Linked DNA regions of Homo sapiens. The protein of the gene in region 1 interacts with the protein of each later gene in a biochemical or structural test. Each region holds a gene or a part of one and is shown in the gene's direction. Other genes may lie near its edges. The genes, in order: TJP1, LPAR1, SHKBP1, ABCA7, PRR16, ATP2B1 and OR10G3.

Evidence for each region.
Region 2: the proteins of TJP1 (region 1) and LPAR1 interact in a test that uses a peptide from one of them, tested with the Homo sapiens proteins (one large-scale study listed by IntAct).
Region 3: the proteins of TJP1 (region 1) and SHKBP1 interact in a test that uses a peptide from one of them, tested with the Homo sapiens proteins (one large-scale study listed by IntAct).
Region 4: the proteins of TJP1 (region 1) and ABCA7 interact in a test that uses a peptide from one of them, tested with the Homo sapiens proteins (one large-scale study listed by IntAct).
Region 5: the proteins of TJP1 (region 1) and PRR16 interact in a test that uses a peptide from one of them, tested with the Homo sapiens proteins (one large-scale study listed by IntAct).
Region 6: the proteins of TJP1 (region 1) and ATP2B1 interact in a test that uses a peptide from one of them, tested with the Homo sapiens proteins (one large-scale study listed by IntAct).
Region 7: the proteins of TJP1 (region 1) and OR10G3 interact in a test that uses a peptide from one of them, tested with the Homo sapiens proteins (one large-scale study listed by IntAct).

What each region holds. Positions count from the first base shown.
Region 1 is NC_000015.10:29,717,969-29,721,468, reverse strand, and holds part of TJP1 (tight junction protein 1), read left to right. Parts: intron 1-760; coding exon 761-1,111; intron 1,112-1,452; coding exon 1,453-1,692; intron 1,693-2,330; coding exon 2,331-3,203; intron 3,204-3,350; coding exon 3,351-3,448; intron 3,449-3,500. UniProt on the Homo sapiens protein: TJP1, TJP2, and TJP3 are closely related scaffolding proteins that link tight junction (TJ) transmembrane proteins such as claudins, junctional adhesion molecules, and occludin to the actin cytoskeleton.
Region 2 is NC_000009.12:110,937,471-110,940,970, reverse strand, and holds part of LPAR1 (lysophosphatidic acid receptor 1), read left to right. Parts: exon of another isoform or gene 1-1,059; intron 1,060-3,500.
Region 3 is NC_000019.10:40,583,373-40,586,872, forward strand, and holds part of SHKBP1 (SH3KBP1-binding protein 1), read left to right. Parts: intron 1-25; coding exon 26-113; intron 114-228; coding exon 229-345; intron 346-3,371; coding exon of another isoform or gene 3,372-3,401; coding exon 3,402-3,500.
Region 4 is NC_000019.10:1,057,107-1,060,606, forward strand, and holds part of ABCA7 (phospholipid-transporting ATPase ABCA7), read left to right. Parts: intron 1-207; coding exon 208-323; intron 324-759; coding exon of another isoform or gene 760-808; coding exon 809-953; intron 954-1,039; coding exon 1,040-1,163; intron 1,164-1,511; coding exon 1,512-1,641; intron 1,642-1,713; coding exon 1,714-1,834; intron 1,835-1,916; coding exon 1,917-1,979; intron 1,980-3,500. UniProt on the Homo sapiens protein: Catalyzes the translocation of specific phospholipids from the cytoplasmic to the extracellular/lumenal leaflet of membrane coupled to the hydrolysis of ATP. Transports preferentially phosphatidylserine over phosphatidylcholine.
Region 5 is NC_000005.10:120,684,300-120,687,814, forward strand, and holds the end of PRR16 (protein Largen), read left to right. Parts: intron 1-1,654; coding exon 1,655-2,410; 3' UTR 2,411-3,015; downstream 3,016-3,515. UniProt on the Homo sapiens protein: Regulator of cell size that promotes cell size increase independently of mTOR and Hippo signaling pathways. Acts by stimulating the translation of specific mRNAs, including those encoding proteins affecting mitochondrial functions.
Region 6 is NC_000012.12:89,587,549-89,590,693, reverse strand, and holds the end of ATP2B1 (plasma membrane calcium-transporting ATPase 1), read left to right. Parts: 3' UTR 1-2,645; downstream 2,646-3,145. UniProt on the Homo sapiens protein: Catalyzes the hydrolysis of ATP coupled with the transport of calcium from the cytoplasm to the extracellular space thereby maintaining intracellular calcium homeostasis.
Region 7 is NC_000014.9:21,577,277-21,581,226, reverse strand, and holds the start of OR10G3 (olfactory receptor 10G3), read left to right. Parts: upstream 1-1,150; 5' UTR 1,151-1,441; intron 1,442-3,950. UniProt on the Homo sapiens protein: Odorant receptor.

The sequences.
Region 1 (3,500 bases):
TGCTTCTGGGGAGGCCTCAGGCAACTTACAATCGTGGCGGAAGGGGAAGGAAGCATGTCTTATATGGCTGGAGCAGGAGGAAGAGAGTTGGGGAGGTGCTGCACACTTAAAAAAACAGATCTTGGGAGAATTCTATCACAAGACTGTGTGAGGGAGATGGTGCTAAACCATTAGAAACCACCCCCATGATCCAGTCACCTCCCACCAGGCCCCTCCCCCAACACTGGGGATTACAATTCAACATGAGATTTGGGTGGGAACACAAATCCAAACCATATCAGTTGTTTCCTAAACATAAATATATTAGCTCTTATTCAACTTTTGAACTGTTGGGTTTATTTCATAGGTATTCTTCCATGTGCTATTCTGTCAGTGTGTCCTTGTTTCTGTGAGCTTAGTTTGGTAACATTCTCCCTCTTCCCCTTGCTTAAAAGGGCTGAAGAGCTAGTGAGTAGGTTTTATAAATCTGAGCAGTGTCAGAGTTTCTTCGTTGTCTTCCAGGGCTGGGCCCTGGAGTCTAACTTTGTCCTGGCTTACCGGCCACTGTTTCCTTCATCCATGCCCTTCAGATCTCAAGGGGTGCTCCATGTGTCTGCGTGTGTGCTTGTACAATCTTCTTGACTTTTCCTTACCAGAAGTTTCAAGAAGTAGATGTGACTTCTCCAGAGAAAGATATCCTTTTCAATCTGCCTTGTACGATAAAGGCCATCTCTTAAAGAACTACTGAATAAAATTTGTAATTTACTTTTATTTGACCCAGGCGGATGGTGCTACAAGTGATGACCTTGATTTGCATGATGATCGTCTGTCCTACCTGTCAGCTCCAGGTAGTGAATACTCAATGTATAGCACGGACAGTAGACACACTTCTGACTATGAAGACACAGACACAGAAGGCGGGGCCTACACTGATCAAGAACTAGATGAAACTCTTAATGATGAGGTTGGGACTCCACCGGAGTCTGCCATTACACGGTCCTCTGAGCCTGTAAGAGAGGACTCCTCTGGAATGCATCATGAAAACCAAACATATCCTCCTTACTCACCACAAGCGCAGCCACAACCAATTCATAGAATAGACTCCCCTGGATTTAAGCCAGCCTCTCAACAGGTAAGCAGCAAGCATTCAACGTTTTGTAGATAGAGGTGCATTATTAAATTTTAGAATGTGGTGATTGAGTTAAAAATATATATGTTGTCCTTTCTCCAGATTAAGAATTAATCTTCAATTTCAATTTGAGAGTACCAAGGGCTTAATTCTAAATTTTGTGTGTTTGTCTTAACACAGCAATGTACTGGATTTTTTTTTTTTCCCAAAAAGTTTAGGACATGAGGTCATAATTTTGTTATTCAGCACACTTAAAATGTATGTCTACCAATCACTATAAATTGAAGTGGAAAGTTAGCAGTAAACAGAAACACTATATTTAAAATATTTTAAACACTTCACAGAAAGCAGAAGCTTCATCTCCAGTCCCTTACCTTTCGCCTGAAACAAACCCAGCATCATCAACCTCTGCTGTTAATCATAATGTAAATTTAACTAATGTCAGACTGGAGGAGCCCACCCCAGCTCCTTCCACCTCTTACTCACCACAAGCTGATTCTTTAAGAACACCAAGTACTGAGGCAGCTCACATAATGCTAAGAGATCAAGAACCATCATTGTCGTCGCATGTAGATCCAACAAAGGTACCTGTGCTGCGGTGTTGCACTAATTTGTTGCTGTCCATCAATCTGGCACATGATCATTTTTGCTTTGCCCTTTAAGTGTTCCTTTTGCTTTTTTACTGCAGGCTTATACACTGTAATGCTTTCAAATCAATACAAATCATTTCAGTTTCGTAGTTTGCATGGCTTCCATTGGTATACTGATTATTTGAAAACAGGCCTTTTAATTGAGATTTGTGCTTATTATTTTTATTTTTGGCTTTCAGTATCTTCCAGAATTCCTTAATATGTAATCGAAACCCATCATAAACATATTTATGTTAATACAAATTATGATGCCCATAAATCTTCTTTAGGATTTTTCAGTGTCAAAATGAAGTGTAATCAATAGTGCATTAATTTTCTACTAAATTTAATATTTATCTTTAACTCACTGTTTATTTAGTACATGCTGAAACATAAAAGCCCCTACCTGCATTATAAATTTTGAGCTTTCACTTAAACCAGCTTTTTCCACTAATCTTGTCTATCCTGATAATAAATGGTAAAACATACCATTTTCACATATTAAATCGTAGTTTAATATTTAATCACAGTCTAATAAAATAGACTAGAATTAGAAACAAGACTTTGTCCTTAAATGTGAATTTTTTATACAGGTGTATAGAAAGGATCCATATCCCGAGGAAATGATGAGGCAGAACCATGTTTTGAAACAGCCAGCCGTTAGTCACCCAGGGCACAGGCCAGACAAAGAGCCTAATCTGACCTATGAACCCCAACTCCCATACGTAGAGAAACAAGCCAGCAGAGACCTCGAGCAGCCCACATACAGATACGAGTCCTCAAGCTATACGGACCAGTTTTCTCGAAACTATGAACATCGTCTGCGATACGAAGATCGCGTCCCCATGTATGAAGAACAGTGGTCATATTATGATGACAAACAGCCCTACCCATCTCGGCCACCTTTTGATAATCAGCACTCTCAAGACCTTGACTCCAGACAGCATCCCGAAGAGTCCTCAGAACGAGGGTACTTTCCACGTTTTGAAGAGCCAGCCCCTCTGTCTTACGACAGCAGACCACGTTACGAACAGGCACCTAGAGCATCCGCCCTGCGGCACGAAGAGCAGCCAGCTCCTGGGTATGACACACATGGTAGACTCAGACCGGAAGCCCAGCCCCACCCTTCAGCAGGGCCCAAGCCTGCAGAGTCCAAGCAGTATTTTGAGCAATATTCACGCAGTTACGAGCAAGTACCACCCCAAGGATTTACCTCTAGAGCAGGTCATTTTGAGCCTCTCCATGGTGCTGCAGCTGTCCCTCCGCTGATACCTTCATCTCAGCATAAGCCAGAAGCTCTGCCTTCAAACACCAAACCACTGCCTCCACCCCCAACTCAAACCGAAGAAGAGGAAGATCCAGCAATGAAGCCACAGTCTGTACTCACCAGAGTTAAGATGTTTGAAAACAAAAGATCTGCATCCTTAGAGACCAAGAAGGATGTAAATGACACTGGCAGTTTTAAGGTAAATATGTCTTTAGTGCCTTGGATGCATGGGCACACCGTTTAAAAGGCTTCTTGGCTCTCCCCTCCGCCATTACATGATATCTATTCTGTTAATTATCTGTTCCTTAGGCATATTTGTCTTTTTTTTTTTTTTTTTTTTAAACAGCCTCCAGAAGTAGCATCTAAACCTTCAGGTGCTCCCATCATTGGTCCCAAACCCACTTCTCAGAATCAATTCAGTGAACATGACAAAACTCTGTACAGGTGAGTACACTTTGTGCTCTTTGTGGCATAGAACTGACCAGGAATTTAACCC
Region 2 (3,500 bases), on another chromosome or scaffold:
AGGTAGTATATCAAGGTTTTATATAGATTTACTGAACAAAACAGATTGGAATTAATGATATTCTCTGACAGTCATCTTCATGAAAACTTCCTTATTTTCTATTAATTTTCTATTTGTAGTAGTGGAGGTTAATTCATATTTCAAGGTGAAGAGCAAGATTTGTAGACTCAAATACCTTCTGCTTTTAAATAAGCATTGTTTTTCTTGGATGAAAAATTCATAGTAGTGATCAAGAAGAATATATTCACTTATGTGTGTAGAAGGTAGTTAAAGAGCACCTACTATGTTCTACGCTCTGTGCTGGCTCCATGAAAAGGACAGATACAGACATTTCCTTTGGAGCTGAGAGTAGAGTGAGAGTTTTTTAAAATAATTACCCAATGGAATTATACATTCTCCATAGACTATATTCAGGTTAACGTTTGATCACATTAAAAAATCTTTTTTGAAAACCTTTTATCATTTCATCTTTCCCTATGGAAATTGAAAAAAAACATTTTATCACCTCCTCTTTCCCCACAGAAATTCAATGGAAAGTTCCTATAATTCTCTGTGCTCCAATTTATATAGCATTTTTGGGTGAATGTAACATGGGATTATGTGGCTCCTCTGAAACTCTGGGAATTACCTTAATTTTAGCCACTGGAAGGAGACAGGGTCCTGCTGATCATTATATAAAGTAGTATTCAGATTGATGCATAGGTCTCGTCTGTTTTGGTTAGGATGACTGCATCATGGACATCATTTTCAGCTATACTCATTGTTGACCCTCTTGTAGACCTGTGAGAATAGCAACTAAGCCTTGGGATCACTGACACACCTAAAACCCTGCCTAACTAACTGAAACACTGAGGACCCCATCACCTCAGATATGAGATTGTCTTATTGCATCCAATGAAGATTAGTAGAACTACAAAAATGGTTTCTCTGTATGTTTATTAACAGGACCTTAAGCACACCTGTGCCACAAGGCCACATTTTCCATGATGTGGATAAAACACATCTTTGTTTACCATGGATGCTATTTTTGTATGAAATAAAACATGAGACATTAAATAACATGAGACTTTTTTCCTGTATTGACTCAAATATTTATTTGCTGATGACCTAAATGTTGGTTGACATTTTTTATATGCATGAACTTTTTCTATTACGACAAGTGCTACTCATAGTTTGCAGAATTGCCAGCAGCAAATGACTACTGAACTTGGACTATTAACCTGCCAAGTTCTTGTTTTAATTTTGACCTTTGTATAATATCTTGTGTATTCCAGTGTGCAATGTACTGAATGATTCACATACTTTTGTGCCTCTTTGGGTTGTTTTTCAGGTTGAAATAATCATTTTGAGGCTATAGGAGCTAGTGTTTCAGTGTACATTTGCCCTAAATGCCACTTTCCCATGCCCAACTACTACCACTGCACAACCACTAACTTTAAAATAACAGAAATAATATTTAAACTAGTATACTCCACAAAGATCGAATGCAGTTGACATCTCTGGAATAAAGAGCATGATTTTTAAAGCTGTGAGATGGAAGAACTTTCAGAACATGGAAAACCCCGTCACGGTGATAGGTGAAGGTATTTGGTGAAGAAAGATGGGAATAAGATTGTAATATAGGAAACAGAAATTAAATGGACCGTAGCCTTTTTGAGAAAAGTAGCAAGAATAAGAGAATGGGCAGGATGTGGGCAGGGAGTGGTTGGAAAGTTTAGAATGGGGAAGTCACAATCCTAACAGATGTTTTTCAAGGCGTGGTGCCTAATGCCATTCCTACAGTATGCTCCCCTATTTGAATTGTAAGTGTCCATCCTTAGATAGGCACGGTTACATGGGAGACATGGGTTGGTCTTGTCATAATGTAGGCAAACCCCAAAATTGGGGCTCAGCCTGGGGGAGTTCTTGGCTCTGCCCAGGAAAGAATTCAAGAGTGAACCAACAGTGAAAGAAAGCAAGTTTGTTAGCGTAACAGTGTACAGCCAAGTGACCACTCCAAAGGCAGAGCAGGGCTATCTCATAGGCAGGGTAGCACAGAACAGCACTAATGGATTGCTGGCTAGTTATATTTATACCCATTCTTTTTTCTTTTTCTTTGAGACAGGGTCTTGCTGTATCACCCAGGCTGGAGTGCAGTGGCATGATCTTGGCTCATTGTAGCCTGGACCTCCTAGGCTCCAGCAGTTCTCCCACTTCAGCCTCTCAATTAGCTGAGATTACAGGTGCATACCACCACACCCAGCTACCCAGATTTTTTTTTTTCTTTTTTCTTTTTTTTTTGTAGAGATGGGGTTTTGTCATGTTGCCCAGGCTGGTCTTGAGCTTCTGGGTTCCAGTGATCTTCCTGCCTTGGCCTCCCAAAATGCTGGGATTGCAGGCATAAGCCACCATGCCTGGGCCCCCACTCTTAATGCTAAATATAATTAAACAGGTTATTCATGAACTTCCTGGAAAAGGGGTGGGGAGTTCCTGAAACCATGTAAGGTTAACTTCCAAGTCATTGCCATTGCATTTGTAAACCGTCATGGTGCTGGTAGGAATGTCTAATGCAAATGTATTATGATTCCTGGTCCTTGCTGGTTTGGATTGGTTTCTTTGCTACATCCTGTTTTGATCAGCAGCGTTGTGAAAACAAGTCCTGCTGGTCTCCCACTTCAGTAGGAACAAGAATTCTGGTCTACTCGAAGTTCTTCTCTTTGTAAATTAGTCCATTGATAATCTGGTTATTTTACTTTAGTTTGTGTACATTTGGTTTTTAGTATTTGTCTTCACTGCCAGATTGCCAGGTTTGTGAGGGCAGGCAGGATTGTAATGATTGTTTGTTTTCTCCACGTTGCCACATTGCCTGTCACGGCTATCTGGTACAAAGTAGGTAGTCAATAAATGCTGAGGGAATGCATGTGATGACAAAACCAAGTTTCTCTGCCTTCAAAACTGAAGACCAGAGCCGTAGTGAATTCACTACAGTAAATGCCACTTTATTCAGCTATGTGGGAGCCAAACCTAGCGACACCTTTATGTTCTATGCCTTCTAAAATACAACAGCCTGGAAAACTCCTGGCTACAATGGGTGCTCAGTAAATAATATGTTTGTTTTACTTCCATTTATTCTGGGAATGATTACTCAGTTTCCATTTTCACTTCATCAAAATGATCCCTGGGTTTTAGACCTATTCAGTCTTCATGATCAAAAGAAGAATTTGTTGGTCAGCAACTGACTTGTTATGAGTCAAGTTATATTAAAATAAAGTCATCTTTGAGATTAATAATGGGCAATACCAATGGCTGGTTTTTAAGCATGATCTTGTATTAAGCTGCTTTTGAGTGAGTACTGGATCTTAATAATTATTTTTAGTTGTGAAATACTTATTTGGCATAAATCATGTGCTACCTTAGAAATTAGTATTTGTAAATTACAACCCTATGGCGTATAGGTACTGTTATTGATTTGTTATCCTTATTTTCCAGTTGATAAAAACTGAGGTAAGGAGAGGTTAGGT
Region 3 (3,500 bases), on another chromosome or scaffold:
GCAGCCTGTCCTGCCCCACCCCCAGGTCCAGGAGGTGCAGCCCATCACCAGTTATGACGCGGCAGGCTCCTTCCTCCTCCTGGGCTGCAACAACGGCTCCATTTACTACGTGGGTGAGCAGCAGCCTGTGTCCCGGGTGCCCGAGACCCTCCCCTGGGAGAGGGGAAGGGAGGGAGAGAGGCTGGGGCACTTGGAACAAACCCGCTCCACCCTCCCTGCCCACCCCAGATGTGCAGAAGTTCCCCTTGCGCATGAAAGACAACGACCTCCTTGTCAGCGAGCTCTATCGGGACCCAGCGGAGGATGGGGTCACCGCCCTCAGTGTCTACCTCACCCCCAAGACCAGTAAGCTATGACCCGGCTTCCCCTGCTGCTGTCACCTGCCAGCCCCAGCCCCAGCCTGCAGCTGTCCCCCAACTTGTGTAGCATGACCCAGAGGGGTTTATCGAGGGGCGGCAGATTCAACTCTCTCTCATTTTTTTTTCTGAGACAGACTCTCATTCTGTTGCCCAGGCTGGAGTGCAGTGGTGCAATCTTGGCTCACTGCAACCTCCACCTCCTGAGTTCAAGCGATTCTCCTGCCTCAGCCTCCCAAGTAGCTAGGATTACAGGCGCCCACTGCCACGCCTGGCTAATTTTTGTAGTTTTAGTAGAGATGGGGTTTCACCATGTTGGCCAGGCTGGTCTTGAACTCCTGACCTCAGATGATCCTCCCGCCTCAGCCCCCCAAAGTACTGGGATTACAGACGTGAGCCACCGCGCCCAGCCAGATTCAACTCTCATCCAGTCATTCAACAAATATTTACTGAGTATCCCTGTATATAAGCACGTTCTAGGTGCTAGATGGTGGCCACCCTCTCCACTAGGGGCAGAATGGACCATTAGGAGTTAATCTTTGTGTTTCTTTCCCACCTTTGTGATTAAGGCATGATGTTCACATGTTCATAAAACAACACAGATGCAGGTTTTACAGCAGATGAACCTGAGTTCTCTTACTTGAGACAGTTTTTTGTTTTGTTTTCTTGACATCAAATGCAGAATGGGTTAATTTTTGAGACGTAATTCTCATACCATAAAATTTCCCATTTGAACGTGCACAATTCAGCGGATTTTAGTATATTCACAAGGTTGTACAACTATCACCATGAACAAATTCCAGAGTATGTTCATCACCCCCGTAAGAAACCCCCTGATCTTTAGCAGTAACTCCACATTTCTCACTTCTGATACCCTCTAGAAATCACTAATATGCTTTCTCTTTTTGTTTGAGACAAGGTCTCGCTCTGCTGCCCAGGCTGGAGTGCAGTGGCATGATCTCAGCTCACTGCAATCTCTGCCTCTTGGGTTCAAGCGATTCTCATGCCTCAGCTTCCTGAGTAGGGGAGGATTACAGGTGTGCATCACCATGCCTGGCTAATTTTTCTACTTTAAGTAGAGACTGGGTTACGCCACGTTGGCCAGGCTCAATATGCTTCCTATACCTATGGATTTGCCTGTTCTGGACAATTCCTGTAAATGGGATCATACATTATATGGTCTTTTGTGTCTGCATTTTTCACTTAGCATATTTTTTTAAATGGTTAGTGTTTTCTGGGTCTTAAGATATCCTTACCTATTCTAGGTTACAAAGATCTTCTCCTGAATTTCTTCTAGAAGATTTACAGTTTAGTTTTTACATGGAAGTCTGTTCTATCAGAAATTAAATTTTATGTATGGTGTGAAGCAGGGATTATTCTTTTTTAAAAAAAAATAGAGACAGGGTCTTGCTCTGTTGCCCAGGCTAGAGTGCAGTGGCATGATGTGAGTTCTCTGCCACCTCCGCCACTCGGGCTCAAGCGATTCTTCTACCTCAACCTCCTGAACAGCAGAACCACAGGCATGCATCACCACACCTGTCTAATTTTTGTATTTTTTTGTAGAGACAGGGTTTTGCCATGTTGCCCAGGCTACTCTTGAACTCCTGGGCTCAAGTGATCCTCACACTTTGGCCTCCAAAGTGCTGGAAATACAGACTTGAGTCACTGTGCTTGGCCATAGCTGCTGCTGCTGCTTTTCTTTTTTTTTTAAAGCAGAAATAAGTTAATAATACACCTAACTTCATGACACATTATCACCTTTCTTCTTTGTAAGGCCCTTTTCTTATTTCTTTTTTTTCTTTCTTTCTTTTTTTTTTTTTTTGTCTTTTCCTGAGACAGAGTATCGCTCTGTCATTCAACCCAGGCTGGAGTGCAATGGCGCAATCTCAGCTCACTACAACCTCTGCCTCCTGGGTTCAAGCAATTCTCCAGACTCAGCCTCCCAAGTAGCTGGGATTACGGGTGCCTGCCACCATGCCCAGCTAATTTTTGTGTTTTTAGTAGAGGCAGGGTTTTGCCACGTTGGCTAAGCAAGTTTTGAACTCCTGGGATTCTCCTCTCGTCGTCTCCCAAAGTGCTGGAATTACAGGCATGGGCTGCTGCACCCGGCCTCTTTCTTATTTCACTTACTTACTCATTTCCTCCTCATCTCCCTTCCCGCCACATGCCACTATTATGTCATTTTTCTTTGTTTTTTGAGACAGTCTCGCTTCGTCACCTAGGCTGGAGTGCAGTGGCGCAATCATAGCTCACTGCAGCCTCACCCCCTGGGCTCAAGTGATCCTCCTACTTCAGCCTCTTGAGTAGCTGGGATCATAGGTGAATGCCATCACACCCAACTAGTTTTTTAAAAATCTTTTGTAGAGATGAGGGTCTCACTATGTTGCCCAGGCTGGCCTCAAACGCCTGGCCTCAAGCAATCTTCCTGCCTCGGCCTCTGTTCTCTGTTTTACTTTCTCTTTCCTCTCTTATTTGCTGTTTCACTGTTACAATTTCTGTCTCTGGGCCTCTCCTCCTTTGACCTGTGCCTTTGTCTCCCTGTTCCTCCATTTCCCACATCTCATCACCATCTTTTTGTGTCCTTCCCTCTCTCCTTGCTTTCTGACTGTGTCTCTGTTCTGTGTCTCTTTCTTTCTTTCTTTCTTTTTTTTTTTTTGAGACAGAGTCACATTCTGTCATGCAGGCTGGAGTGCAGTGGCGTGGTCTTGGCTCATTGCAACCTCTGCCTCCTGGGTTCAAGCAATTCTCATGCCTCAGCCTTCTGAGTAGCTGGGATTACAGGTGCGTACTACCACCACCAGCTAATTTTTGTATTTTTACTAGAGACAGGGTTTCAGCACGTTGGCCAGGCTGGTCTTGAACGCCTGACCTCAAGCGATCCACCCGCCTCAGCTTCCCAAAGTGATGGGATTACGGCGTGAGCCACCGTGCCCGGCCTCTCCTTGCTTTCTGACTGTGTCTCTGTTCTGTGCCTGTTTCTTTCTCCCTGCCCTGGTTTCTGTCTCTGTGGCCCAGGCCCTCTCCTCATCCTTGGCCCCTCACCAGGTGACAGTGGGAACTGGATCGAGATCGCCTATGGCACCAGCTCAGGGGGCGTGCGGGTCATCGTGCAGCACCCGGAGACTGTGGGCTCGGGGCCTCAGC
Region 4 (3,500 bases), on another chromosome or scaffold:
TGGGGGCCCAGCCACTGCTTGCCACTGCCCTGTCTGGCCCCTTGTAGGCAGGGGCTTGTCCAAGATGGCCTGGGTAAAGTCTTGAGGATTGTGGGAGACTTTGTGCCTTCCTACTCAAAAAGCAAGGAGGTCAGGGTGGGAACAGGGCTGAGGGTGGCAGTGCCCACCTCTTTAGGCTGATAAAGGTAACTGCCATCTCCAATGCAGTGTAACTACTTGGTGCCAGCATGCATCGTGGTGCTCATCTTTCTGGCCTTCCAGCAGAGGGCATATGTGGCCCCTGCCAACCTGCCTGCTCTCCTGCTGTTGCTACTACTGTATGGGTGAGGCCCCCAGTCCCTCAGGGCCTATTCTTACTGACCCCTTACTGCCTTCCACATTAATGCTGCTGAGATAGAACTCTGCAGTGACTCCCAAGGAGAGGATATGGAGGTCTGAGGTGATGCCGTGTGTGATCCAATTCAGTGGTGTGCCAAGGTGGCCTTAAAAGCTCATCTTATCCTGACTCATATTAGTAGAGTTCTAAGGCAGCCCATGCCTGTAATTCCAGTACTTTGGGAGGCCGAGGCAGGAGGACTGCTTGTGGCCAGGAGTTTGAGACCAGCCTGGGAAACATAGAGAGACCCACCTCTAAAAAAGAAAGAAAGAGAGAGAAAGAGAAAGAGAGAAAGAAAAAAAAAAAAACAGAAATGTGCTTTGGGTGAAAATGTCAAGGTCTAAGGCAGAGAAGATGGGAATGGAGATTTTTATTCCTCTCAGGGCTTCTCAGTCTGAGTGGTTACTCCAGTGACTCCTATTGTCCCTTCAGCTGGTCGATCACACCGCTCATGTACCCAGCCTCCTTCTTCTTCTCCGTGCCCAGCACAGCCTATGTGGTGCTCACCTGCATAAACCTCTTTATTGGCATCAATGGAAGCATGGCCACCTTTGTGCTTGAGCTCTTCTCTGATCAGGTGGGGCACCACGAGGCTGGGGCTTGGGCTGGGTTGGGTCGTTGGACTCAGCCCCTGACCAACATCCGTCTCCCACCCTTGAGCAGAAGCTGCAGGAGGTGAGCCGGATCTTGAAACAGGTCTTCCTTATCTTCCCCCACTTCTGCTTGGGCCGGGGGCTCATTGACATGGTGCGGAACCAGGCCATGGCTGATGCCTTTGAGCGCTTGGGTGAGAACTTCCTGTCAGGTGGGGCCATGGCTACAGATAGCTAGCACCCTTGGAGACCTAGAGTTAATTATACAGAGTGGAGAAAAACAGCCCCCCAGGGAGACAGCCAGGGTTCTTAGGTGGCCCTAAGGTTGGGCCAAGTTGGAGGTACAAGAAAGCAGCCATAAAAAGCTAATTCTTAGATTACATCACAAGAGGCCTCTTCTGTTTTCTATGCCAATTAGACTCCAGCTGAGTGGCCTATCCAATTTGTGTTCCTTTCCCTTAAGAATCCAGAGTGACATGGATGGAGAAAGGGCCAGAAACCAAGACTCTCATGGACCCAGTCCCTCCTTTCTATATCCACAGGAGACAGGCAGTTCCAGTCACCCCTGCGCTGGGAGGTGGTCGGCAAGAACCTCTTGGCCATGGTGATACAGGGGCCCCTCTTCCTTCTCTTCACACTACTGCTGCAGCACCGAAGCCAACTCCTGCCACAGTTAGTGAGGTCTATGGAGAGGGTGGCAGGGGCCAAGGACCTACTTTAAGCCCACAGATATTCTGTCCCCAGGCCCAGGGTGAGGTCTCTGCCACTCCTGGGAGAGGAGGACGAGGATGTAGCCCGTGAACGGGAGCGGGTGGTCCAAGGAGCCACCCAGGGGGATGTGTTGGTGCTGAGGAACTTGACCAAGGTAGGTGTGGTCAGGTCGACTGCTGGGTGGGGGGTGCTCCCACTGGCCCACTCACCTTTCTGAAAGACCTGCACTCTCCCAGGTATACCGTGGGCAGAGGATGCCAGCTGTTGACCGCTTGTGCCTGGGGATTCCCCCTGGTGAGGTGAGTCCAGGGGTGGAGGCCAGGTGCAGGGACAGTGAGTGGCTGCCCTACTGCATGCCCTGCCCATCATCCTTTACTGAACACCTACTGTGTATCCACCACCTTTTATTGGGCACCTACTGTATGCCAATATTTGTGCTCCTATTTTTATTTTATTATATTATTATTTATTTATTTATTTATTTATTTATTTATTTGAGATGGAGTCTCACTCTGTCTCCCAGGCTGGAGTGCAGTGGTGGGATCTCAGCTCACTGCAAGCTCCACCTCCCGGGTTCATGCCATTCTCCTGCCTCAGCCTCCCGAGTAGCTGGGACTGCAGGCGCCCACCACCACGCCCGGCTAATTTTTTTGTATTTTTAGCAGAGACGGGGTTTCACCGTGTTAGCCAGGATGGTCTCCATCTCCTGACCTCGTGATCCACCCGCCTCAGCCTCCCAGAGTGCTGGGATTACAAGCGTGAGCCACCACACCTGCCCTATTTTATCTTTTTTTAGAGACGGAGTCTCACTCTGTCGCCCAGGCTGGAGTGCAGTGGTGAGATCTCGGCTCACTACAAGCTCCACCTCCCGGGTTCACACCATTTTCCTGCCTCAGCCTCCCAGGTAGCTGGGACTGCAGGCGCCTGCCATCACGCCTGGCTAATTTTTGTATTTTTAGTAGAGACAGGGCTTCACCATATTAGCCAGGATGGTCTCGATCTCCTGACCTCATGATCCACCCGCCTCAGCCTCCCAAAGTGCTGGGATTACAGGCGTGAGCCACTGCGTCTGGCCTGTGCATTTATCTTGAGCCAACAAAACCTCATTAAGCACCTACTGCATGCTTACCTCTGTTAAACACACACTGTGCTCACTAAAGAGGTGTACTGAATACTTTTGTGTCCATCAACGTTTATCAAATACCAATAGAATTTATTGGACCCCTATTGTATACACATCTACATCAAGCACTTGCTCACAGCCAGCATTTATCAGGCACCTGCTTTGTACCAGTTCACATTCAAGCACCTACTATATACAAATGTATTTGCTGTGTGCCACTTATTGGCCACCTACTAGGGCTGGTACACATCTGCAAACAAGTGCTGTTTGTTAGCACACATTGCAGTATATATATATATTTTTTTTTCTTTTTTTTTCTTTTGAGATGGAGTCTCACTGTCACCCAGCTTGGTGTGCAATGGTGTAATCTTGGCTCACGGTAACCTCCGCCTCCCAGGTTCAAGCGATTCTCCAGCCTCAGCCTCCCGAGTAGCTGGGACCACAGGCACATGCCGCCATGCCCAGCTGATTTTGTATTTTTAGTAGAGACGGGGTTTCACCATGTTGGCCAGGCTGGTCTTGCACTCCTGACCTCAAATGATCCACCCACCTTGGCCTCCGAAAGTTCTGGGATCACATGTGTGAGCCACCATGCCCGGCCTTTGTTTTTTTCTTTTTTTTTTTTTTTGAGACAAAGTCTCGCTCTGCCACCCAGGCTGGAGTGCAGTGTCACGATCTCGGCTCACTGCAACCTCTG
Region 5 (3,515 bases), on another chromosome or scaffold:
CCTTTACCTGCCTGGTGGAATCAATCACTTAAGAGCCTCATGAGGAGGAAGTAAAGTCTATATCCTGTCCAACGTCTAGATGCTTTTGGTGTTTTCATTTTGAGCCCAATCCTGCCACCATGTGACAAAGAGCCAACTTCACAGTTGATTAAACTTAGACCTAAGTAAGAGAGGAGGGAAAAATCTCCATATGGAATAAATGTGATGGAAATGTGTGAAATGAAGGAACTGTCTCCTTACATAAACTATTTTTAAAACAATCCATAACTTTTCCATTCTCATATGTGTATAACAGTGCAGGTATGGTGGCTATGAGAATGGCCTCCAAGACCTCTGAATGCAGAGTGTAAATGACTGAGGACCCTGATGCTGTACTCTGAAAGTCAGCATTTGAGCAGTGACCACACTGCTGCTCCCAGCCAATGACTGAACAGGGCAGAGACAGTAAGGTTGCCCTGTTATGGGAGATGTCAGACTCCCCAGTATCCTTGCCAAAGTCTCCTTAGAACTGCATTGTCTAAGATACTTCCATTCAATGTTCCTATCTTCACAACCTCTCTCCTTAACGTGGGTTCCCACCTGTCTTATGCTCTGATGCCTCTGCCAGCCTTATCTGAGTCCCTGGCTCCTCTGCCTGGTACCTGTAGTAGCCCTTGACTGGTGTGACTTCCTGTCATTCACCCAGTGATAGTAAACATCTGCTTTGTATTAGTTTAGGGTCCTGGGCCCAGATAATTTTCTTTCCCTTTCTCCAAGGCGAGACAGCTTTTGCTTCTACCCTCTCTCAGAAGCAAAATATCTTTGCCTGTGTCTTACAGGTTGGAGGGTTTCTTGCTACTGCACCAGTAAAGGTTCTGCTTTATAAGGGAGAACAGTCTGAGAAGTAAATGGGGTTTTGTGCCTGTGTGCCCACCAGGGGCTCTCTTCCATCTCTTTCCTCCTCTCAGCATGAGAGGTCTGTGTAAAGGAGGCCATGAGTGAGTACAGATGATACTGTGTCTGAGACTCCCAAGGATTCTAAATTGTCATAATAGCACATATTCAACCTTTAATTAGTCATCAAAGTTTTAGTTGCTTTCTTCATTCACTCTGATGGTTGCTGCCTTTTTTTCCTGTGATTTTCTAAAGGTTGAACAGTTGATGTTTTCTGTATATCCTCAGAGGGCTTGAAACTCTCAACAGTTGAGTTCATTTGGTTGCCTTGTGAGGTCAAGTCTCTGTTGGTCTCAAGAAAATTATGATTTTGCAGATTATCTTTTTTTTTAATTTCAAGATTGGAAGCAATGTTCTCCTACAGCTTTCTGCATGTTAAGCAGAAGGGAAATGCCCTCTGATTATTTTTAAAAATCAGTTATATTCCTGCATCAGGTTTCATATTTTATGGGTGGGTATATCAGAGTCAGAAATAGAATGTATATATAAATCATATGTTATGTTCTAAGCATGTTAAATTATATTATCATACAGTTGGTCCTCTGTGTGATGGTCACTATTCTGTAAATTTATTGACTGAAAACATCAAGCAGCAATGGAATGTTCAGTTCAATATCAGTTAAGGCTTCCATAGCAGATTTCCCCTAGACAAAAATAAATTGTTTCTAGTATACTTTGTTTGGGTCATTCTTCAAAACAATTACCTTGTCCTTTCCACTAGGTGGTTGACCAGATTGACACCCTGACCTCTGACCTACAGCTGGAGGATGAGATGACTGACAGCTCCAAAACGGACACGCTGAATAGTAGCTCAAGTGGCACAACAGCCTCCAGCCTAGAGAAGATCAAAGTGCAGGCTAATGCACCGCTTATTAAACCCCCAGCACACCCGTCTGCTATCCTCACGGTCCTGAGAAAGCCAAACCCTCCACCACCTCCTCCAAGGTTGACACCTGTGAAGTGTGAAGACCCCAAAAGGGTGGTTCCAACTGCCAATCCTGTAAAAACCAATGGCACCCTTCTACGAAATGGAGGCTTACCAGGTGGACCTAACAAAATTCCAAATGGAGATATCTGCTGCATACCCAACAGTAACTTGGACAAGGCTCCAGTCCAGCTTCTGATGCATAGACCTGAAAAAGACAGATGTCCCCAGGCAGGGCCTCGAGAACGAGTTCGGTTTAATGAAAAAGTACAGTACCATGGCTATTGTCCTGACTGTGATACCCGGTATAACATAAAAAACAGGGAGGTCCACTTACACAGTGAACCTGTCCACCCACCGGGAAAGATTCCTCACCAAGGCCCTCCCCTCCCTCCTACACCCCATCTCCCTCCTTTCCCACTAGAAAATGGGGGAATGGGAATAAGCCACAGTAACAGCTTCCCCCCTATCAGACCTGCAACTGTGCCTCCTCCCACTGCACCAAAACCACAGAAGACGATCTTGAGGAAGTCAACCACTACAACCGTGTGATGTATGCCATTAAAAAAATTGTTTTTTTAATTTTCTATATTATAAACATAAAATAAGTAATGAGCACTTTCTACTCAAGCAATAAAAAGCCCAAATATATTAATCCTGCATTCAGCAAAGTGGCATAAAAATCACCTGGTAAGTATGCAGCACATTGCTTATATCCTGGGTATGCATTATTTTAAATGTTGTATCATTAAAAACCTCAGAATGATGAAAAATATGAATGATGCATTGTTTTTGCAATTGACCTATGACAAACTGTGAACCTGCAGATTTCACCTATTTTGATTTACTATAAGAGCTGGGATTTGATTCATTTTATTTATGCCTAAGTCATCTATGCATTAACATGTCATATTCTTAACTTTGATCTAATGCTTTTTACTAGGAAATTTTAATACTGAAGGACTATTTTATTATTTTTTTCTAAAGATGTTTGTCACTAGTTTTTCATTATTAAATGCTGAGGCCAATACCAAGAAGTTTATTTTCTATATTATACAATTATGAATTACATGCTCAGCTATATATGTAATAAAATACTTTGGTCTGTGGAAATATTGTTAAATCAATAAACAATAGTAAATAATGACAAAAGCAAATGTTCCTCAGAATTAAAATGAAGTAGTGGTTCATTTAATCTCACTTAACATTCCTCAATATGGGCAGCAAATCTGACAGAGTTTGGAGAAGTTACAGTGAGTGTATATCAGAATTTTCTAAATGAAATATCATATTCCACATCATAAATCAAAATCTACACACTACATATTTTATACTTCCATTTGGTACTTCAAGAGCCTTCTGTTGAACTCTCCCTATGTTGCCAAGCCCTCCTCATACTCAGCATTCTTCCAGGATGTACCCTAAACTATTACATTGAGGCTGTAGGGTGTTTTGCCTCCTGCATTAGCAAGCTCTCTGCCTCCCCAAGTGGACCCACATTTATAGGAGAATTATAGGGGGATATCTGAATGCTTCTGGTATCAGGATGTGTTCAGCATTTGGCGTAAGTTTTTCCCCCTCAGAGTTGAAAGATACCATGGGCCGTTGCTGTCTTCTAAAAGAAAGAGAAGAAATCTTTCCTTCTAACATCAAATAA
Region 6 (3,145 bases), on another chromosome or scaffold:
AGCAGAGCTTTAGTTTATCTCAGTCCTGGATGGGAGAGAGAGGGAGGAGTAAAACTGGGCAAGACAAAGAGCCCTGGATCGTTGAATTGATAGTTTAATTTCTGCTGTTGGCTGTTAATAATTTGGATTATTTATGTTTATAAATGATACAGATCTGTTTACAAGGTTTGTAGATACTTTTTTTGTTCCTGTTCATAGATGGGAAGCTTCCTTATAACTGATGCAGAGAAAAATTAGTCCTTCAAATACTGCTGTATTTTCAGGAAAAAAAAAAAAAGGGGTGTTTCTATTGAAACTGTACTAAATTTTTGCCTACAATTTACCTTGTTAAATATTGTAGATAAATTGCTAATACTAATAGCCAAATAGATAACACTAATGCTTTGTTTAAAAAAACGAAAAAAACAAAACAAAACAAAAAAACATGAGCAGTGGTGTTCTAATGAAGTTATGACATCTGTCCTAATTAGTTTCTTAAATACATTTACTACTTAATGGTTTTGAAGCAACTGTTTAATTTTTAAAATTTTTGAAAACTTGCTAATAACCTTTTGTTCAGAATTTAGTAGATTGTTTAATGCAGGACATCAACTACATAATGAAAGATGCTTGAAATGCTTTTGTTATTTCAGGCAAATCAAATTAAATCAGACTATCAAACTACAAGAGAACCTTAGTCTTTTTTGTTTTTGTCTAAACATGTTAGTTTAGTGATGTCTTGGTGAACTGTGAGTGAACTGTATTGATTTTTCTAATCTTTAGAGACCTTCACACAGCATGAGGGCTGTTGGCATTTTGAAAAAGGTTAATAAGTAGAAGCATACATGTTTTCCTTTTGTTTTTGAAACTTGTTTGTAAACATAAATAAATATGCCCTTTTATTAAATAAATTCATGGCAATGTTTTTTTAAAAGACATTTCAGCTTCTTTACTCAGTTCTGCATATACAGTGCATCAGTCTGTTCTCTTTGACCACAATTGGAATACATTTCAAGATGGTAACAGCCCCATGAAGTACCGCTTTAATTCCTTGCTGGTAATCTAATAGAATCAGATTAAGAAAATTAACACAATTTTACCATTTGACATACTCTTCATTGAATTTAGTTTGTCTAAAATAGTCTCACAGGTAAAAAACATAACAACAATGACCACCATTGTCTTTGATACATTTATTTTAATTCTTAAGTGGCCAAATAACAGATTAGGTAAAATGAGATTACATGAAAAGGTTCTAAAATGATATATTTAGATGCAATAATTAACCATATGCTAGAATGCCCACCTCTAAGCCAATTGGATTCTTTAGCTCTCTTTTTCTTTCCTTCATCTACCTTCTTCTCTTTTTTGCCTCTGTCTTTACCCTTTAGAAACTGGCATGTGTTAGGGCCCAGATTTCACCAGATACACAATCCTCAGGCTGACATAAAGTTTACGAGGACTGCTACTATAACTGAGAGTGCTGACCAAGCAAAGAAACATTTAGTTGATGGTGCTTGATATTTTTGGTGGGTGGGGGAAATCTTTTTCTCACCATCAAATCTTTGCAGTAATCCTCTGCAGGTCTTAGAAACACATTGGCTCTGTCAGCATTTGTAATTGTACATTTATTCATCAGGTATTTATAGTGAATCATACTGTAAAAAAGAGGTAGCATGATATGCTGGAAAGCATATTAGACTAGGAGTCAAGACCTGGTTTCTAGTCTTGGTTTTGCCATTAATGTGCTGCATGATCTTGGGAAAATCATTTACCCTAAATAAGGGTGGTGGACTATCTTGAAGAACCCTTTCAACTCTAAAAATTGACCCTATCAACTGGAGAGCCCACAAGGCATAGGGAATAGAGAAAAGGGAAATGTTTTCAGTTTTCTTTTTTATTTTGGTTATGCTTAAATATGAATGTAATTACCAAAAGATTTAGAAGTGCATGTGCTTTGGAGGATTTGTATTGAGCTTTTACAGTATTCATTTTTCAACTCAAGGCAATGGCTTTCTACACCAACTCTAATCCATAAACGGGTCTTATGACATCTATGAAGTAGTAGCAAGACATGCTTAGTGTGTATTTCTCTCTTTGAGACACTGTAATTTCTACCAGAAATTTCCAGAGCATTATGTAGGTAGAAAAAAATGCAAGCAAGCTGTTAAAGATCTTGGATCCCATTATATAGTATGTATAGCTGAAATCTGTAATTCAATCACTTTTTCTCTTTTATCCTCTAACCAAAAAATTGTTTAATTTTGCATCCCAAATGTTTTTAATCTTTGTATATTTTTTAAAAATCCTTTTCTCCTCATCATTGCCTTTTTTGTGGTTGTAAATAGACTTACTTGCACTTTGAAGATGAGTTACTCCTTGTCATCTTACAAATATGTGATATGGTAATTTTCATAACAGATGTCAGTTTTGAACCAAGAATTGGTGATTTGTTTATAAGAAAAAAACTGGCTTCATTTCTGTGAAATTGCTCTTTGAAAATTTCTTTTTACACGTGTAAGCCAACTGAGATACCGTGATGGTGTTGATTTCTTTCAATGATGCTTACCATCTATTTTAGCCACTGAGCCTTTTATTATTTGTCTATTTGTAAAGTTTATTTGTCTTAACTCATTTAATAAATATACTGTTTATCTGTTTCTGAATGGGGACTGAACTTTTTGGATATTGATATTGATTTGAAAATATTTTGGAATTTTTTCTACTTGAAATTTTAGAAATCTAATTGAAAATTCTATAATGTACTTGAAATGTTATGGTTGTGTTACAGTGAATCACTCTTCTAATAATATGCATGATCTTGCCTCTAAAATGAGAGTGGGTACATTGTCCCTACTCTCCAACCCACTGTCCTCAACCCTTATAGCACAATAGATCATTTCTGCAGTCTATGGGAATGTAATCTGCTGGTTTTAGTACAGATTAGTTTTTCACATTAGCTGTAAGAGCTTATTTTTATTTCATTATCCATACTTGTCAATACCAGTTATCTGAACTCTATGGTAAAAATTAATAAAATTATCCATAGTTGTTTTTTATAATAAGTTATTAATATAAACTAGCAACTTTGTTGAAATACTGAGTAAACTTTAAATGATGATGAATACCATATTTTTCAGTTAGTATAAATCATTAGTAAATTATT
Region 7 (3,950 bases), on another chromosome or scaffold:
CCCATACAATGGCAGAGTTGAGTAGCTGCAACAGAGACTGTATGGTCCTCAAGGCCAAAAACATTTATTATCTGCCTCTTTAGAGAGAAAGTGTGCTTTCCTCTGCTTTAGACACTTTAACACAATTGTGGCTTGGAAGCTACAGAGACCTCCACAAAAGTTTGGTGGAAAAAATAATAAAACTAAACCATATTCAAGATGTTCTTTTACAACACAGACCATCTCTGGACATTTGAAGACAGTTGGGAAAAATGTTGCGACAACACCAAATTTAAGTCTAGAAGAAAATAAGTTAGACCAAATTCAAAGTATTCAAGGAAACAAGACCAAGAAATACTAAGAAAAATAACAGGCCGGGGGCAGTGGCTTGCACCTGTAGTCCCAGCATTTTGGGAGGTAGAGGGAGGAGGATCACTTGAGCCCAGGAGTTCAAGACCAGCCTGAGCAATCTAGTGAGACCTCGTCTCTACGAAAAATTTAAAAATTAGTCAGGTGTGGTGGTATGTGCCTGTAGTCCCAGCCACTTGGGAGGCTGAGGTGGAAGAATCGCTTGAGCCTAGGAGGATGAGGCTGCAGTGAGCCGTGATCACGTCGCTGCACTCCAGCCTGAGCGACAGAGCAAGACCCTGTCTCAAAAAATAAATAAATAAATAAAATTGTAAAATTAAAAAAGAAAAATCACTGTTCAGGGAGCTTGACTTAAAACATTACAGATGATAGTTGGATCAGATGACCTCTAATGTCCCTCCAACCCTGAAATTCTGTTTCTTCTAGTCTGTGAAGGTCTATGTTAGCACCTTAGTAATTCAAAGTGTGAATTTCTTAAAATGTGAATGCACCAATAAGAACACATCTCTTGCCAAGTAACAACCATGTTAGCTTTTTCTTCTCTTTTTTTCCAAATTTGCTTTGGAACAGAAAGAAAACCACAGATCTGAAGATTTCAACGAGACCTGTTAAGCCCCACAGACTTTGTCGCACCTGCTGTTACAAAATTGGAAAAAGCTAGAAACCCAGAGAGTCTCCTAGGAAACAAACTATGGATATTGGTCTTGCCTATCACAGGAGTGCTATTACAATATTCCCCAAGCTAAAGGTCTCACACATAAAAACTGACTCTGAGGGAAATAGAAGAAGTAGTAGAACACAGGAGAGACCAACCTTAACAGTTATCTTCAGTAAGAGCCACAGCTCCTCCCCCAGTTCATAAGGAAGCTGGAAGCAGATATCTCTACAAATAAGCAGGCAAATAATAAATTAAGTTTCCATAGTTTGACTCTTTACTTTGATCCAGCCAAAAGTAATTAGTTGGGTCTTCTGCCACGAGCTCTTCACAATAATTGCTGCTGACCTATGAGATATTCAAGATTCCTTAGGAATAGATTTGTATCCTTTCTCTCCGTCTGCAAGAAGAGTTTTTGATGGATGCTGACACCTTCAGGTGAGTTCCTCTTCTCAAAATAGCACCTGCCACTGTTCTAATCCCATTTTTCAGAGATAAATGTTAAGTCCAAACATTGTGTAAGGGGTTTCTCTACTCTGAGTCACTTCATCTCTCAATATTCTTACTTGTTTAGTTACTCAGTATAGTTCTTTTTCTGCTGTCACAAAAATTTTCTTTGCTGTTCTGCTCATATGACTATGTAACTACCATTTAGCCTTTTTATAAATAGTGGCTAATAGGCCAAGCATGTTGGCTCACACCTGTAATCCCAGCACTTTGGGATGCCAAGACGGGCGGATCACCTGAGGTCAGGAGTTCAAGACCAGCCTAACCAACATGGTAAAACCCCATCTCTACTAAAAATACAAAAATTAGCTGGGGGTGGTGGTACACGCCTGTAATCCCAGCTACTTGGGAGGCTGAGGCAGGAGAATCACTTGAACCTGAGAGATGGAGGTTGCAGTGAGCCAAGATGGCACAACTGCATTCCAGCCTGGGCAACAGAGAGAGACTCCATCTCAAAAATAAAAATTAAAATTAAAAAAATTAAAAAATTAAAAAATAGTGGCTAATATTGGATAACACTATTTCCCCCAGGCCTTTAATTGGCTAAATTTTTCTCCAAAGCTATTCTCCATTAAAAGTCCATTCACTGGTTTTAATACCAACCAGACTAGGAAGAGCATCTTCGAGTTCTGTGGTGGTGCCACCCTTGCTCTGTTCTTTTTGTCCTCACCAGGTCCCTTCCACCTATAAGACAAGTTCTCTGCCCAAAATTTGAAAAATGGACATGAGTAAAGCTATAACCTGATTTCTTTGTTGGCAAATATTTTAAACAGACAATTCTAACTCATTGCTAATAAGGGTTTTACATTTTAATAGAAATTGTCTCATGTCTCTCAATTTAATAACTCAAACTTTTCTCATATTATATATGTATATATTTGTTCCATTGTTATTCATCTTTAAATTATTTTCCATTTTATATGTCTTATTGTGAAATTTATTTTAAAAAGAAATTAATTATATTAGTTTTCCAAATATTTGAAATGCTTTTTATAAATAAAAAAGTGTGCTTTGAGTCGATTTTCAGAAAATAATAAAATTTTTAAAGTTTTCTTCATGGCCATTTGAAAGATGGGTTAGGGATACAGTTTGGGACCAGAATTAAGTAAAATTCATTTGCTGAAATGAGGTTAAGCCTGTGCCCTTCGCCTCATTAGAAAAGATGTCTAATCTCCTTGGTTGCTCAAAATTATACACTTTTATTTAGTTTGTGGTCCCCTAATATTTCTCATATATTTTTCAAACATTCATGTACTAGATGGTCTTTATTTTATTTTGTTTATTTATTATTTATTTATTTATTTTGAGATGGAGTTTCATTCTTGTTGCCCAGGCTGGAGTGCAATCGCACGATCTCAAGTCACTGCAACCTCTGCCTTCCGGGTTCAAGCTACTCTCCTGCCTCAGCCTCCTGTGTAGCTGGGATTACAGGCTCATACCACTATGCCCAGCTAATTTTTGTATTTTTAGTAGAGACGAGGTTTCACCATGTTGGCCACACTGGTCTCAAACTCCTGACATCAGGTGATCCACCAGCCTTGGCCTCCCAAAGTGTTAGGATTACGGGCATGAGCCACCGCGACCGGCCTCTAGATGGTCTTTAATATTTGATATCAGATGAGAATTCAAAAACACATTTAATCAATATATTCAAAGACTAAGTATCTGTGAAATAAAAACACTACTAAGCCTTCAGGCTTTTTTCTTTTTTTTTGAGTTGGAGTTTTGCTCTTGTTGCCCAGACTGGAACGCAATGGTGTGCTCTCAGTTCACTGTAATCTCAGCCTCCCAGGTTCCAGCGATTCTCCTGCCTCAGCCTCCTGAGTAGCTGGGATTACAGGCATGTGCCACCACACCACACTAATTTTGTATTTTTAGTAGAGACGGGGTTTCTTCACGTTGGTCAGGCTGATCACCCGACCTCAGGTGATCTGCCCGCCTCGGCCTCCCAAAATGCTGGGATTACAGGCGTGAGCCACCGCGCCCGGCCTCCCTCGGGCTTTTTTAAGAAACACTCAGTGTGATAGATTGTCAATGAAAGAAGTCGGGCAACTTCATGAATTCATTGTAACTAAACTTCACTCTAGTTTGATTTTAGAACTTGCTCTTAACTCCACTATGTCTCAATTTTGAAATAGGGTAGTAACACCAGTTTAGAATCCTTGACAGAATGAACCATAAAACTCTTAAAATTGTGATTCAGTTCACATGATTTACTACATTATTTTGATTTGGTTCCTTGTGGGAAGGAATTTTCAGTAAAATGTGGAAAGAGTGCTGGACTAGGAACAACACAATCTGGTTGGAGCCTTTACTCCAGCATTATACAGCTGTGAGACTCCTCTGCCATTTAACCTCTAAGGATTAAAAAACACTACACAGGTGCAAAATGCCACCATTATTCTATGACTTTTTATCACTCTGGTCCCCGGAGGTTTCA